Linked DNA regions of Homo sapiens: region 2 is linked to region 1. A link means that fine-mapping ties the variant in region 1 to the expression of a gene that starts in the linked region. Tissue or cell type: monocytes after LPS. Region 1 holds a variant in brackets; the other region holds the start of a gene. All regions are shown on one strand. Distances are between the middles of the regions.

What was found. PIP is the estimated chance that this variant, and not a neighbour inherited with it, causes the effect.
Region 2: it holds the start of STK35, and the variant in region 1 is fine-mapped to the expression of STK35 in monocytes after LPS (Quach 2016, PIP 0.91).

What each region holds. Positions count from the first base shown.
Region 1 is chr20:1,942,966-1,951,069 of GRCh38, reverse strand. It overlaps PDYN-AS1 (PDYN antisense RNA 1), which reads right to left and starts at 3,860. Exons shown (of 4, transcript NR_134520.1): 1 at 3,419-3,860. RefSeq lists silencers at 1-227, 3,573-3,867 and enhancers at 3,014-3,561, 4,995-5,541. The variant T/C (reference allele first, on the strand shown) is at 4,201.
Region 2 is chr20:2,098,394-2,106,497 of GRCh38, reverse strand. STK35 (serine/threonine kinase 35) reads right to left here and starts at 4,671. Exons shown (of 4, transcript NM_080836.4): 1 at 4,323-4,671; 2 at 3,133-3,730. The coding sequence starts at 4,616. RefSeq lists silencers at 3,256-3,305, 3,326-3,855, 4,146-4,195, 4,206-4,495, 4,596-4,785 and an enhancer at 2,942-3,910.

The DNA.
Region 1 (8,104 bases):
TGTGTCTGTCCGCCACCCCTGCCCATGTCACTGCCACAGTGACCTGCAGGAGAATCCGCCGCCTTCCCTCTGAGAGGCTTTGTAACCATGGTTACAAAGGAAGGGCCCTGGGGAGTATGGAATCTGCACCTCATTTCTGCCCTGGTCTGTAACTTTGGGTAAGTTACTGATAGTAGTCAACTTCTCCATACCTTGGTGTCCTCACACATTAAATGTATACAAAAACTCACACCTCCCTTAGAGAGCTGCGGAGAAGATCCAATGGGAATGAGCCCAGCCTGGCAGCTGACATTTCCTAAGCAGTCAATTAATAATAGTTACTAGCAGTGTCAAAGAGTTGCTATCCATTTATTTTGCTGTAAAAAAAAAGTCACTTGTTTTAAAAGACAAGATAGGCTGGGTACGGTGACTCACGCCTGTAATCCCAGCACTTTGGGACACCAAGGTGGGTGGATCACCTGAGGTCAGGAGTTCGAGACCAGCCTGGCCAACATGGCGAAACCCTGTCTCTACTAAAAATACAAAGATTAGCCAGGTGTGCTGGTGTGTGCCTGTGATCCCAGCTACTTAGGAGGCTGAGGTGGGAGAATTGCTTGATCTGGGGAGGCAGAGGTTGCTGTGAGCCAAGATCATGCCACTGGACTCCAGCCTGGGCGACAGAGTGAGACTCTGTCTCAAAAAAACAAAACAAAAACAAAAGACAAGATATTAAGAGGCAGTATGTTTCAAAATCCTCTCTTGATTAAGTAACTCACCAGGTAAGTCTTGGAAAGATAACATAAACCACCTTCAAAAGCATCTCCAAATGCCAAAGTGAAAATCAGATACCGCGTACAAGAGAGCTACGAATCTCTGAAATCTTAGCGATTCTTCCCCCAAATAAATGGAACAGAGAAGCGCTAAGTAATGGGAAAATAACAAAATTCTGCTTCAGCACTGTTACAGATGCAGTGACTGCTGATTAAAAGAAAATACTTCCTTTAAAAAGGCCACTTATGAAAAGGAAACTCTGGTAGCAAAAGCTGGCATGGAATGGGGGTCAGGCAGCAGGTGGTGGCCACAACCAGGGGGCATTGATCACATGTGAGATGGGGAAGGCCAGTGGGCCTCCAGGAGGGCTGAAGGGCAGAGGACCCAGAGGACAGTGGCTCCCTTCCTTCCCGCTGCTCAGAGAGTGGTGGGGAGAAGGGTTTCCTGTAACCTCAGGGCCTGTTTTCACTGCTTGTTTTCATGGCCATTCAATGCTCTGGCTTGTTTTCAGGCCTGAAGAGGGAAAAAAAAATAAAAGTCAATTCCTTGTATTTGGAAGAATAGGGGTAAACTGGCCCTCTTCAGGGTGTTGGAAGCCTCTCTCTGCCTCCTGCTGGAAAAAGAGGCCCCTGGGCAGTCTTTTTAGCCACTTAGCCTGGTTCTGAGGTTTTCTTCTTAACAACTTATAATTCCAGATTGCAGCAAGAAATACAAATGCATTGGAGACCGGGTCTGTGCCAGAGGTGGAGGGGTTGGGCAGAGTGTTCCCAGGAGCACAGCAGGAGGAGAAAGTTCCAGGGTAGAAACTGGAACTCCTGCATGTTGGACACAAGTGGAATGGAGGCAATGTGGCCATCTGGATATGATTAAAAAAAAAAAAAGTTCACCCCTTTGATCCAAGCATCTCATATCTGGGGCTATCTATGCAATAATGTTTAAGACAAAATTGTTTGCAAGTAGGGAAAAAATAGAAACAGTCCAGCTCTCCATCAATAGGGAATTCATTAATTAAATTATTATGTTGACATCTGTCAGTGGCAACTTGTTTCTTTTTTTCCTTCAACTCTGTCTTCCCCATCAGCTGGTCCCGTGGGCTCTGCCACTGAGGCATGTTCCAGGCTGGAGGCTGCATCCCTAGTCCCTGCCACCATCGCCTCTTGCCCGTGCCTCTGAATCCTGTAGCCTGACAAACTTCCTGGTTCCTCCATTGGTGCCTCTCCAATCTGTTCCTACACAGCTGCAGGACCCCCGGGTTCAGGGACTTCACATGTCTCTCAGGCTAAAATCCACAGGCGCTGTCTCACTGGGCCCTGGCCTGACTCTCCAACCTGGTTTCAAAAATGCTCATTCTTTACCTCCAGTTGAATCACACTTGAGCTTAGTGCAGCCTCCCAGCCTTTGCCCTGGCTGCTTCCTCTGCCTGGACTGCTCCATTCTCCTTCCTTCTCTTCCTTCCGGTGGCAGTAAAATGCCATATCCCTGGGGACTTCACGCACTGTCTGTAAATTGTTTTCCCTCTCCCAACCAGCGTCTCTCTAACACTTTGTCCATCTTTTCTTTTTACTTTTTTCTTTTTTCTTTTTTTTTTTTTGTTTTTTGAGACAGAGTCTCACTCTGTCACCCAGGCTGGAGTGTGGTGGTGAGATCTCGGCTCACTGCAAACTCTGCCTCCCAGATTTAAATAATCCTGGTGCCTCAGCCTCCAGAATAGATGGGATTACAGGCATGCACCACCACATAGAGCATTTTTGTTTTGTTTTGTTTTTTTGTATTTTTAGTACAGATGGATTTTCTCTACTAAAACCCTAGGCTGGTCTTGAATGCCTGGCCTCAAATGATCTGCCCGCCTCGGCCTCCCAAAGTCCTAGGATTTCAGGCATGAGCCACAGAGCCTGGCCCCATCTTATTTTCTTCATAGCACTCAGTATAAGGTGAAATGCTCTCAACTATTTATTCATGCATTTGTCAATTATCCCTCCCATGAGAACTCAGAGCAAGGACTGAGTGTGTTGTATGCCCTTGCCTGGTGTACAGGAGCTGCCCGCTCTACACATGTTTGGTGAATGAATGAATGAATGAATGAATGAATACAAGAATGTTATGAAGCTGCTTGAAAGAATGAGGTAGACCTGTATGTCTTACTTGGAAAGGTGCCTTAAATGTATACATGTAAATCCACTTATGAAAAACCAGAAATTAATCAAGTCTATGGAATTAGAAGAGTGACTAGTTTTTGAGGGCTCACTATCATCTGGGCACAGTTTTAACCACTTTTACATTTATTGTCTTGTCTCATTTGGTCCTCACAGTAACCTTCTGGGATAGGTACAGTTTTTGGCACCATTCTACAGAGGAGGACGCTGACACAGAGAGGTTAAGAAACTTGCTTAAGGTCACGCAGTCAGGAAATGGGGGAGCCAGGAAATGAATGTATAGGGTCTGACCTCTGAAAGAACATTCACTAAATGGTGTAGAGTGTTTATTTCGGGATGGACAGGGGCTGAGGTGAGATTCTGGAGGCCGTGGGGTATTAGGGGAGAGGTCCAGACGCCAATTCTATTCCTGCAGTACTGTGTGATCTTGGGCAAGTCATCTGCTTCTCTGTGCTTACCTGGGAACCAGAGGCGATGGTGCAGGGCTACCGAGAGAAGTAAATAGGATAACGTACCCACAGCGCCCAGCTCGAGGCCCTCCATCAGCCGACGATGGGAATGTTTGGTGGAGTAAGTCTGCCCTTCAAGGCCTGAAAGCCCCGTCCCGGTTCCCTGCGCCAGGGCCGCACAGGGGTGGGGAGAGGGCCGCAGGGCCTGGTTGCTTGGCTTGAGGCAGGGTCCTCCCTCAGGGCCTCGGCTCTCCCAGCTGTCGGCCGCGCTGCAGCTTCCCCTGCTCTGGACCGCGACTGCCTGGGCTGGGCGGCCGCACCACGGAATGCGCAGGGGTCATTTTTGGAAGAGCTCAGCTCCAGGCGCAAGGTGCCAAGAGCAGGGCGGATGACTTCAAAGGGCCTTTGCAGCACGTCCTGAAAGATGAGCCCTTGCAGCTCTCCCTGCCCCCGCAGAACACACAGCTTGAAAGGGAAATCGAGCTCGGAGCAGGTGGCTCAGGAATTTGGTGCACGCTGGGGAGGCAGCTCATTTGGGCACAAATACGCGAGGAGGGCGTGGCCTCCTTACACTCCCGGTTAGTATTGCGCGTTTGGGTCCGGGGTAAGCTCGCCTTCTGAGCTTTCATCGCTGGCCGCATTTCGCATTTATTTTTCTGTTTATTTCATGATCCCTTTCTTCCCCGACGAGGGCCTGGGATTTGTCTGTTGCTCTCTGTGTCTACAGTTCGACCTGCAGCGGAGGATGAGTAAATGTTTCCCTAGTGAATGAATGCGTTTTCCTCTTCCACCGGTTTCATCACGTTGGAAAGGCACCGGGGTTTAATCCTGCCTCTAGTAATAACCAG[T/C]TGGGTAATCTTGGACTTCGCTGTTCAGCTATAGGCTTAAAATCTGCCTCCATTTGAACCCAGGCCCTGCCTCTTACTAGCTGCGTCACTTTAGAAAGTTGCCAAACTTCTCTGTGTTTCAATTTCCTCATTTGGGCAACGGGGTACTGAGTGCCTATGTCACAGATTGGAGTGAGGGATAAAGGGCTTAACACATACGAAGCGCGACTAGGACGGCACATAGTAAGGTCTAGATAAATATTAACTCGTATTATTTTATTATTATTTTAAAATCAACTTTATTAAAGTATTAACTTACAAACAATAAAATGCACTCATTTTAAAGTATACAGTTTGATGAGTTTTGACTGATATGTACACCCATGTAAGCACCACCTCAATCAAGATAAGCATTTCCAGGTCCCCGAAAGTTCCCTTTGTCCCTTTTAGTCAAGTGCTTCCCTCGCCCTAGCACCTGACTGATGAGTTTTGCCGGTTCTCGAACTTTCCATGAGTCTGGGAATGGTGGTTCACGCCTCTAATCCCAGCACTTTGGGAGACTGAAGCAGGAGGATCACTTGAGCCCAGGAATTTGAGACCAGCCTGGGCAACGTAGGGAGACCCAGTCTCTACAAAAATTTTTTTAAAAAATTAGCTGGGCTGGTTGGCATGCACCTGTAGTTCCAGCTACTTGCAGGCTGAGGCAGGAAGATCACTTGAGCCCAGGAGTTTGAGACCAGCCTGGGCCACATAGGGAAACCCTGTCTCTACAAAAAAAATTTAAAAAAAATTAACCAGGCATAATGCATTGCACTAACACTTATTCCACACTCAAGAAACGCTCTCTCCTACCTCCTCTCCCTTCTTCCCGTTAAAGGGGTCCTTCCAAGGGTATCGGGAGGCAGGAATCTAAAGGTCAAGGGCACTGTGGAGTTGATGGGGGAGAAACCACTGTGTTTATAAAGCAGGTTGTTATTTTTTCATTCTTTGCCTTGTGTCCTTTCCCCTACTTCCCTCTTTTGAGGATAATTAAAATGCAAGCTGGCACTCCCTTGGAGGAGACAGCTGAAGATTTAATTGCCCCAAGAAAAATTTTCCAGCAAAAGGTCCTGTGGTAATGGCAGCTCTCGGCCGGGCTGCCCGAGTGCCTTTGCATCTGGCACAAAACATTAGCGATAATGCATTAATCTGCATGTGCACAGGGTCCATTTACTGGCATGGGGGGGAGCCATGGCAGAATCAAGCCGACAGCCTTAGTCAGGCTGCAGCCTTCTTGCCATTAAACTCTCACCCGGCCTCATTCTGGAGACAGGTCTGTGGCCCAGATCCATGCGACCGGCTGCCGCACCAGCTGACCTTGCCCAGAGAGGGCCTGCGGGGGCAGAAGGCCCAGGTTGGTGGGAACGGCACCTTCTACCATGAGGGCTTGGCCTGTTGTCATTGAAGCAGAGCCAGGAGGACAAGTCTGTTGAGAGGCTGAGCCCCGCCAGCTCCCAAAGTTGAGCCATTGACCAGCCACGCTAGGGTTGTGCAATTTGAGAGTAGACAAATTTTTGCAATCTTTTATCCTGTTTTCTAAGTATAGCCCCAGTTTCTCTAGAAGAGGAACCAAAGGCTCAGACAAAGGTCATTGGCTCCTTGCCTGTTGGGGATCATGCGTCATTTTTTTAAAAAAGTGATTGCCCTGAACCCAGGATCATGATGAAAGGCAGAGAAACTCAGTGGGAAAAGTCAGATGTACTGAGGTTTGCTTCTAGTTCCAAACCTGCCAGCCAGGGACTCTCAGTTCTCCTAAAATGCCAAGCAGACTCCGACTTTTATGCTCTTCCTTCTCCCCCTTTGCTCTCTTCCCTCCCTCTCCCCCTTCCTTTCTTCCTTCCCACCCATCCACCCATCCGTGCTCTCCTGCATCAATCCAGCCATCCATTCAGCCTCCCTTCTTCCATCCATCTATCCTCTCATCCTCCTTCTCATCACTCCGTCCATCCTCCCATCCCTCTAATATTTGCTGGGTGCCTCCTATGGGCTTAGCATAGGAGTTACACTGATGAGTGAATCAACACCCTCCTTGCCCTGAGGCAGCAACTGGGGCAGTAGAGGAGAGGATGGTAATCATGTAATCACAGTGCCAATGTATAATTACAAATTGAGATGAGGGCTACAAAGAAGGGCTGGACATGGTTACTATGGAAGTGTTTGACAAGGGAACTTAGCCCAGCCTCTGGATTGGAGGACAAGCAGGAAAGATCCAGGGAGTGTTGCAGGCAGAGGGAGTAGCTCATGCCGGGGTCCTGTGGTTCATTTTAGAAACTGGCAGGAGGCTGGTGTTGCCAGTGCAGGGAGTGATGGAGAGAGTGGTGTGAATCGGGCTGCAGAGCTCAGTAGGGGCCAGTGCACACAGGGACGGCTGGCCTCTGCCAGGCACTGGCTCCTTGGAACTCCTTTGCACTGGCTCTTTTGCACTTACCTGGCTTCTTGTTACTTATTTTTTAGATCTCAGTTCAGGGATTTCCTCTTCAAGAAGTCTTTTTCTGCCCTGTGCAGGCTGAATGAAGCCAGTATACTTTCCTTTAATAAGACAAAGTATCTCAAATTTGGAAATAAGGCAAAAGAAGGCAGTGCTTCATCTCGTTGCCATACTGGGGCACGGTTTAAAAGCCCCACTGAAGGATTAGTTAGTTCTGTAGAAGAATATACCTGAGTTTGTCTTTCCTATTTGATTAAGGCCCAGATTGGGGCTAATTTGTAGACTTTTGTCTGGTGGGTGCAAATGGCTTCTGTCTGGCAGAAAAAAAATATCTCCAAAGATATGGCCTTATTGCCTTGTGGGACATTAACCGGATTGATCTCTAACTTGAAAATGTTATTCTCACCTTCCTTTTTCAAAGCCTCTAAGTGCCCATTTACTCTTGGAACCAGCTCTTGCCCCACTGCTGGCTCACTCATTAGTGTGTTAATTCTGCACTTGTACGTCATGTTTGTCACGCCCTTCTCAGCAGCGCTCATCCCTGCACTGGGATTGCCAGTGGCTCTGGTTCCCTCATATATGAGCTCATATGGGTGTGGTCCATTTTTTGTCCACATTGTGTCCTCAGAACTTTGCACAGGGCCAGGTTCCAGTAGGAGCTTGAGAAATAATTACTAGTTGAAAGATCTTGAACTTATTACCTCTCCACCTCTCTGAGCCTCAATTTTCTTCCCTGTGAAATTGACATTCCATTTGTAAAGAATGTGAAGGTTCCATGAAGTAAAGAATTCGAGTGTCCAGAGTCCAGCGTGGCACATGGTAGGCTTTAGTCTCCCTTATCCTAGGGGCTGAATCCCAAAGGTAGAGCGTGAAGTTCTGGTTTGGGAGCTCATGTCTGGTCAAGAGGACACCAAGTCACTGGAGGAATGACTCATGGTGGGGCTAGGGAAGTCAAAGGAGTTGCTATATAGTATTTCTTGGGAGAGGAAAATCAACCTGGCCAAGGAGTCCAGCAGGGGCTGGGGAGGAGCAGGAAATGTTCTTAAACAGGTCAGGTGGTGGTATAAGGCAGAGGACTCCGAAAACCAAGCTGGGGTGTTGCACCCCATACCCGAAAGGTTGGTAAGAGAGACCTATCTCAGGCTAATGAGAAAGAGAGGGACTTGATAAAATTATTCGTCAGAAGACCCACCATTGCAGCGATGCTCTAATAACCTGGCCTGATATGTGAGTGTGTGGGTGTGAATGTGTGTGTGTTTCTGTGCATATGTCGACTGCTGTCTGCACCACACTGCTGCAAAGAGTCTTAAATCTACTTTCTCATCGAACTCTCGCAAGAACCCCCGGAGGTGAAGGCTGCTACTATCCCTGTTTCACAGGTGACAAAGCAGAGGCCCAGTGGTGAATCTCTTTGCCCAAGGTCACAGGGCAAGGACTCTGGGGTGCAGTTGTATCCGA
Region 2 (8,104 bases), 160 kb before region 1:
TTCTCAAACTTTTCAAATGTAAGTTCCATTGGGGCAAGGGGTGGTGTGTTTTGCTTTGCTTTTTTTCTTTCCCTTCAAATACCACAGTAGGGACTCAGCATTAGGTTTAGTTGAGACTTCAAGGCAGATTCACACTTTTTGGCCTGTTCAAAATCATTCTGAGTTTTAGGAGGCAGGGCCAAGGGTGACTGTAAAGGACTTTTCTATTTAATGAGAGAGCTGAACCAGGTTATCTCTACGATTCCTTCCAGCTTTAACATTACTGGGTGGTATTTGCATGCTGTAAACCCAAGGCCCCAGGACAGATCAAGACCCCTAAATTTTGGAATCCAGAATAAGCAAAGTTTAACCTGGAGTAATTTTGGTATCTGTTCTCTATTTTAAGAAGCAAAAATGATTACCTATTTACTACTTGAAAAATCCACACATTGCAAGTCAGCTTGAATGTCATTTTCATAAGCAGAAACAACACATATTTTCTTCACTGCTCTGTCTCTGAGCCCTGAACACCGTAGAGGTTCAAATATTTTAAAGACTCCAAACAACTGAAAGGGACCAATCCAATCCAGTGTACGGCCTAAAGCAAAAGATTTCATTTTTCTAGGTCCCAGTTTTAGTTCACAAAGGGAGGATGAAAACACCAGTGTTTCTGTCAACTTGGTGTGCCTGACAACACAGAAAACAAGGTGTGTTCTATGATGAAACAAGTTTGGGAAACTTGAGCAAGAACAATGTGAATCTTGAAGGGGGTGAGGGTAGAAGAGTACAGAACATGGTGTGAACTTATATAAGGCAGTGAATTCCTCCCTATGTGGAGCACTTGCTGACATTAACAGTTTGCACAGTGACCCTATGTACCTAATGTCATAGGTACATACCCACTATCTTACAATAAAGGAATGCTCCTCACAGGGTTCAAACAATTTGCTCCATGTTTTGTGCAGTCAGTCCTGGGATGAGCCAGAGGGTCTAACCCCAAAGTCCATGGTACTAACCACTATGCTATGCTGCCATGGGGTCACTTTGGAATTTTGACAAATTCTTCAGGTGAGGAAAGTCCACATAGTATTTATATGTTGAGAGAGTAAGCAAGAGCTTCAAGCTGAGGTTGAAGGTTCGAGACTGGCGTCAATGAACTGAGGACACAAGGAATAAACATTCGGCAAGGCAAATTCCTACATCCCAAGGCAATCCTGTAGTAGGAAGTCCAGACCATTCATTGGCAGTAAAGGAGAAGACTAAGAGAAGTCTGAGAATAGAAAGACTTCAAAGTAAGTGATGCGCTCCTAGAATATAGGTAAGATAAACGAATCCCCTAGGGAGTCTTTTTTTTTTTTTTTTGAGACAGGGTCTTGCTCAGTCGCCCAGGTTATAGTGCCATTGCATGATAATGGCTCACTGTAGCCTCAACCTCCCAGGCTCAACTGATCCTCCTGCCTCTGCCTCTCAAGTAGCTGGGACTATAAGCCTGTGCCATCAGGTCCGGCTATTTTTTTTTCTATTTTTTGTGGAGACCAGGGTCTCACTTTGTTGCCCAGGCTGTTCCCAAACTCCTGGGCTCAAGCCATCCTCCCACCTCAGCCTCCCAAAGTGCTGGGATTACAGTCGTGAGCCATTGTGCCCTGCTGGAAGTCTTTTCAAAACAAAAACACTCACCCTGGGGAGAGGGTAGGCTTCTCAGAATGGATGGGGCACGGATGGACTTTATAAAGTTAGACATCTAATTAAAGGACTCTAGGTGATACTGATTCATGTTTCCAACTCCACTGTCAAACAACTGACTTGCAATGGGACAAAGCGTTCTCTTGGGAAAGACTTGGGGGATCTTTAAGTTGTGCAAAAGTAACAAGATTTTGGGAAACCACCCCCTCCAAACTCACCCCAAATCCTACCCACTCTTAAAAAAGTTCATCCTCAGGGTGCAGAGAACAGCATTACGCCTTCGAAAGGATCCAGGCCTCGAATCAAGACAGATCTGGGATCCCCGTCACTTAAGCTCTGAGAAATGTAAGGAAACCAGGAGTACAGTCTAACTTCCCTTTCAAGCGGATTAACCCTGATCAAGTTATTTGTTCACTTCTAAGCCTTAGTTTATTTATAGAAAAAGGATAGAATTTACTTTTGAAGTTATTACCTAAAAATTACTTCAGCACTGAGACCACAGCTGGGACTCGGATTAGTAAACTTTCTTCCCCTGGATCCTCCTGCCTCGGAAAGTCTCCTCAAACTTTCTACCGCCTCTCTCCTCTCCAAGCAGACACTTAGCTACTGGTAGTATGAAAAAGGCTTGTGAGTACTGAGTAGTTAGGATGAATACATTCCCTAACTGCAGTTAAAACCCGGAAACTAAGATAATTAGTTCCTCCAGGACTGCAAGACCTCTTGCCTCAATGTACCCCATTTTCCTTTTAAGTAAAACCACTTCCCAGCCAGCCTCTGAGGTTAAGAAAAAGATTAAGAATGTAAAACGGAGGGAAAAGATGCCGGATGCTTTGTTATGTGACAGCTCTCAGGCCACCTGTGAGGGTTGTCAGCCTGCACCCCTCAGAGGACCAAGCCAGAAGACAGTCAGTTTGCTCGGCTGCCTGGGATGAAGGGCCGGGGGCCTCAGAGGAAAAGGCAGACGAGGAAGCCACAGGAGTTTGGGGGTTGGAGCTGGAGGGTGTCAGGAAACTTGGAACCAGACAGGGAGAGGGTGTGGGTGGGTCCAGTCAAGTTTTTTCTTTTTGTTTGTTTTGGGAGGGAAAGAGAGAGGCCCTCGGGGGTGAGGAGGCTCCGCAGTTCTGCTACTAACTGAACCCGACCCCTCCTCCACTCCCCCAACCGATCTTAAAAATAGAAGACGTTTAATAACCATAGCTCGCAATTCTTGAGCACTTATTAAGTTAATGGTTAGCACTTAAACGAGCTCTTGTTATGGAAACACCAGCCAACTTTAGGCCCAGGGACTGATCTTAGGACCTGAGAAGAGAGGGCCGAATGCCTGGGCCCAGGAAAGGAGGGTGTGTCAGGGCACAGGGTGACAGGGACCAGGTCTGAGGCCTAGGAAGGCCAGGAACAGTGTGGGCCAAGCCGTCCGGAGAGCAGGGGGTCCAGGCCCTGCGTGGGTGGAAAGGCCCGCGGTGCTCCTACCTTTCAGCGAGGTCTCCACCAGGCGCAGGTAAAGCTGCGAGCTCTTGTTGCCGTGACTCATGCGCTGGGCTAACCCATTGCGCTGCAGGACGCACTCCTCAAACTGCACGACGTTCTGGTGGCGCCGCTTGAGGCTGGTGAGGGCCCAGAATTCAGCCAGCGCCAGCTCCACGTTCTCGGGGGCGTCGCAGCGGATCTTCTTGACCGCCACCCGGGCCCCGCTGCGCCCGGCCACTGCCTCATAAACCACGCCGTAGCTGCCGCGCCCGATCTCCGCCAACAGGCTGTAACGCGGCCGCGCGGACCCGCCACCGCCCTCAGGCCGTCGCCGCGCCAGGAAGGCCTCGCCCGGGGCCTCGGCCGCCACCGGATCCATGGCCCGGGCCGCCGCCGCCGGCCTCAGCTTCGTGCTGGGCGCCCGCGGCACTGGGCTTCGCCTTTTCCGCTCCGGGCTTTGTGTACCTCTGCGGGCGCCGTCCTTCCCCGTTTCCATGGCTGCGGGCGGCGGGGGGAGCAGCAACGGCGCTGCCCGGGCCCCCCCTGCCTCATCCCTCCGTCCGGCCCTGGGACGCGGAGGAGCCGGACCTTGGATTGTGACCTGCGGGCGAAAGAATCGGTTAAACGGCCAGGCCAAGGCGGGGAGGCCAGGAGCGTAGGCCGCGGGGCGTCCCACCTCCTCCTCCCCCGGCCGCCGCGGCCCCTTTAAGACGGAAGCCACCGCCGCTGATTGAACGGGGGAGGGGAGGGGAAAGCGGGAAAGACCGAACCACTGGGCAGCAGCTCAGAGGGGGAACCGGAAAGAAAAGCACAAACTCTCCGCTCTCTCTGTTAGCTTGTCATGTAGCGATAGGAAAAAGAAGAGCCAGCAAGCTTCACGCCTTCTGAAAACCGCTTAGAGACGCGATTTGGCCGGCGGAAATATTTTTCTTTGCTTGGCCCCCTCTGTGACGCTCCTCCCCGCGCCCCGCCTTGTGTTCGCCCGGGTGTAAACAGTCCATTGAATTAAGCCCTAGCGGAGCCCAGCGGACCGACCCAAGTCCCCGAGGGCGACGGGTAGAAGGGATTGGCTGAAAAGTTCGGCTTCTCGGAGTGCGACTGGCCGAGGACCCGATTTCCCTTCCCAAGCGCGGAGGCAGTGGCAGTAACTCCAGCCTCGGCGCTGGCCTTCAGTCCTCCAACGGCGCCCTTACCTGGCCCGCGCACCTCCACTTCCGGGCGGCCCGTTTCCCCCCTGGAGCCCCTGCCTGGGGATGGTCCGCTCCGGGCCCGGGCTGCCTCCGGGACCGAGCAGCGCGGGAGGTGGCGGCCCGAGCCCGGCGTGTAGCGGATCCTTCTGCTGCCGCGGCGCTCGCTGGGGAAGCCTGGGCTCCTAGGCTCCCGTGGCTTTCCACGTGTTCGCGCCAGCTGAGCCCTTTACATAACCTCTTTACATAAGCTGCACCTCCCGCCGGCGCCCGGGCCAGCGGAGACTCCTGGTGGCCCATCCCCCGGGACGCCAGCCGAGTGAGCCCTGCACCGCCCGGTCCTGCAAAGGTCGACGGAGCAGCCGCAGCCGAGCGCACCGGCACGCCTTGCCGGGACCCAATCACTGGCGAGAACACCCAGCCAACAAAAAATAGGCGCGAAATTCCCGTGATCCGCGGCGGGCTCCGGGTCTCCGCAGCGGCCCGCGCATCACTATCCCTTCTCGCCTGATCTGCGTGAAGACCAACCGTCCGCAGTAGGCGCCTAATAAATACTGACTGGGTGATTGTCTTGGTCGTTTGATTCATAGCTCTGTCCTGGGAACCTCAGGGACTGGGTTGGAATCCCGACCTTCCCTTCTACCAGCCCAGTGATCTTGTGCAAATCATTGACCCACCCTGAGCATCCGTTTATCTAATGATCCTCTGCAAAATGGATAGAATGGGCTTTAATTCCCAGGAATGATAGACCCAAATGAAATACCTAGATGGAGGCTAATTGGGTGTGGGGCTGTTAGTACCCAAAGCTCCCATTTAGGCACAGATTTTTGAATATTTTGTTCTGTATTTTGTATTCCAGTGTAGGCCTAGTGGGTGCCCAGTGTTTGTTAACTGAATCTACAGATGTTTATTGAACACCCGTAATGTGCTAGGCACCATTCCAAGTCGCTGGGGAAAGAGCAATAGACAAGGCAGTTTCTGCCTTGGTTGAGGTTCTGTGCCACTGCAGGAGACAAACCACATGGGTGGCCTTGGGCAAGTTAGTCAACCTTCTTGTGTATTTGTTCCTTACCTGTAAGAAGATCCACAGAGGTTATACAGGTAAAGCACTTAGGACAGCCTTGCACACAATGTTAAGTATTATTAAATAAATGCACAGGATAATTTTTGCCAGTGGTAAGTGTGATGGAGAAAAAGAATGAGCTAAAGAGTGCTCACTGGATACAGGCCATTTCTTATAATGTATTTGGTCGCTGAAAACCTCTTAACTTTTTTGTGATTAAATTTCAAATTTACACATAAATTTCAAGAATCGTAAAGATCATATACTTTTCCACTAGAATAACAAATTGTTATATTTTGCTGCATATCCATATCCTCTCGTGTATGTGTATATATACACACAAATACATATTGTGTGTGGATATCTATATGGTATATACCCCAAAAGAAAGGAAATCAGTATACGGTATATAGATATTCACACACACACATATATAATGTATATATTCTTTTTTACTACATCATTTTAGAGTTTCCAACATCAAACTCCTTTATCCTAAATATATGTGTGTGTTTCCTTAAAAAAAAGACATTATCTGGCATAATCTCAGTACAGTGGTCAAAAATCAGGAATTTTAACAATGATACAATTGTTTTATTTAATACACTCCATCCATATTTAAATTTTGCTAATGGTCCCAATAATGTCCTTTATAGCTATTCCCCAGGATCCAATTCAGGATCAGACGTTGCACTGAGTTGTCATGCCTCTTTAGTTTCTTTTAATCTGGAAGGGCAGTTAGTTATCCAGCCTTTCTTTGTCTTTCATGACCTTGACATTTTTGAAGAATACTGGCGAGTTATATTGTAGAATGTCCCTAAATTTTTATTCATCTGTGTTTTCTTATTAGTTTCAGAGTATCCATTTTTCTCTCCTCCCCCACCCCCCACCAACCCATCCCTTGCTATTCTGAGAGGGTATGCATTTTTTGGCAGGACTACTGCTGAAAAAAGTTGCCTCCTCAGGGCCTTTCATCAGGAGGCACATGGCATTGTGTTTGTCCCAGTATTCGTGGTGTTAACTTCCATCATTTGGTTGAGGTGGTGTAGGAGTAGTTACACTCTACCATAAAGTTACGATTTTTCCTTCTGTAACTATTAAGTATTCTGTGGGAAGATATTTTGAGACTATTTAAATATCCTCTTCTTTAGACTCTTACCCACTGGTTTCAGAATTCATGGTGATTCTTGCTTGAAACAATTATTACAGTTGCAAAATGGTGATCAGAAGGTCTTTTTAACCATAACCTTTTTTCTATTTCTGTGAAGAATGTCATTGGTATTTTGATAGGGATTGCATTGACTCTTTAGATTGCTTTGGGTAGTATGGACATTTTAACCAATGTTGATTCTTCCTATCCATGAACATGAAATATCTTTCCATTTTTTGTGTGTCCTCTTCAATTTCTTTAATCAGTGTTTTATAGTTTTCATTATAGAGATCTTTCATTTCTTTAAATTAATTCCTAGGTATTTTTATTTATGGCTATTGTAAATGGGATTACTTTTTAAATTTCTTTTTCAGATTGTTCACTGTTAACATATAGAAATGCTACTGATTTTTGTATGTTGATTTTGTATCCTGCAACTGTACGGAATTTGTTTATCAGTTCTAACAGTTTTTTGGTGGAGTCTTTAGGTTTTTCCAAATATAAGATATAATATGCAAACAAGGATAATTTAACTTTTTCCTTTCCTATTTGGATGCCCTTTATTTCTTTCTCTTGCCTGATTGCTCTAGCTAGTACTTCTAGTACTTCTAGTACTGTGTTGAATAACAGTGGTGAAAGTGGGCATCCTTGTTGTATTCCAGATCTTAAAGGCTTTCAGTTTTTCCCCATTCAGTATGGTACTAGCTGTGGGTTTGTCATATATGGCTTTTATTATGTGGGGGTATTTTCCTTCTATTCCCAGTTTTTTTTAGGGTTTTTATCATGAAACCATGTTGAATTTTATCAAATGCTTTTTCAGCATCAATTGAAATGATAGTATGGTTTTTGTCCTTCATTCCGACAGCCTTATTTTATCTTAATTACCTCTTTAAAGACCTTATCTTCAAATATAGGCACATTCTAAGGTACTGGGAATTATAACTTCAACATGAATTTGGAGTGAGGAGGGACACAATTCAGTCCATAATAGCCTCTTTGGCATTTGACATTTGAATTGAAACCTGAATGTCAAGAACCCAGCTCTGAAACCGAATGGGAAGTCATTCCAAGAAGAAAGAAGAACAAGTACAAAAGCCATGAGATGGATACAAGCTTGTGAAACCAGCCATGTGGTAAGATTTTAAAATGGTACAACCACTTTGGGAAAAAAAAAAAAAACCAGTTTGGCAGTTTCTTATAAAGTTAAATATATGTCTACCCTGTGGCCCAGCAATTCCATGGGTCTCAGGTAAATGAAAACTTCTGTTAATAAAGCAACTTGTATAGGAATTCACAGTGGCTTTTCCCATAAGAATTCCAAACTGGAAAATGCTGCAGTGTTCAGCAATAAATGAATGGATAAACAAATTGTGGTATTCCCATACAATGAAATGTTGCTGAGGGTGTGTTGATGGGGGGAGGAATAAAGTATTGATACAACAGCATGTATGAATCAAAATAATTATGCTGAGTGAAAGAGGCCAGGCACAAGAGAGTACCTGCTAGATGATTCTATATACAATTCTTAACAATACAAACTAATTTGTAGTGACAGAAAGCAGATCAGTAGTTGGG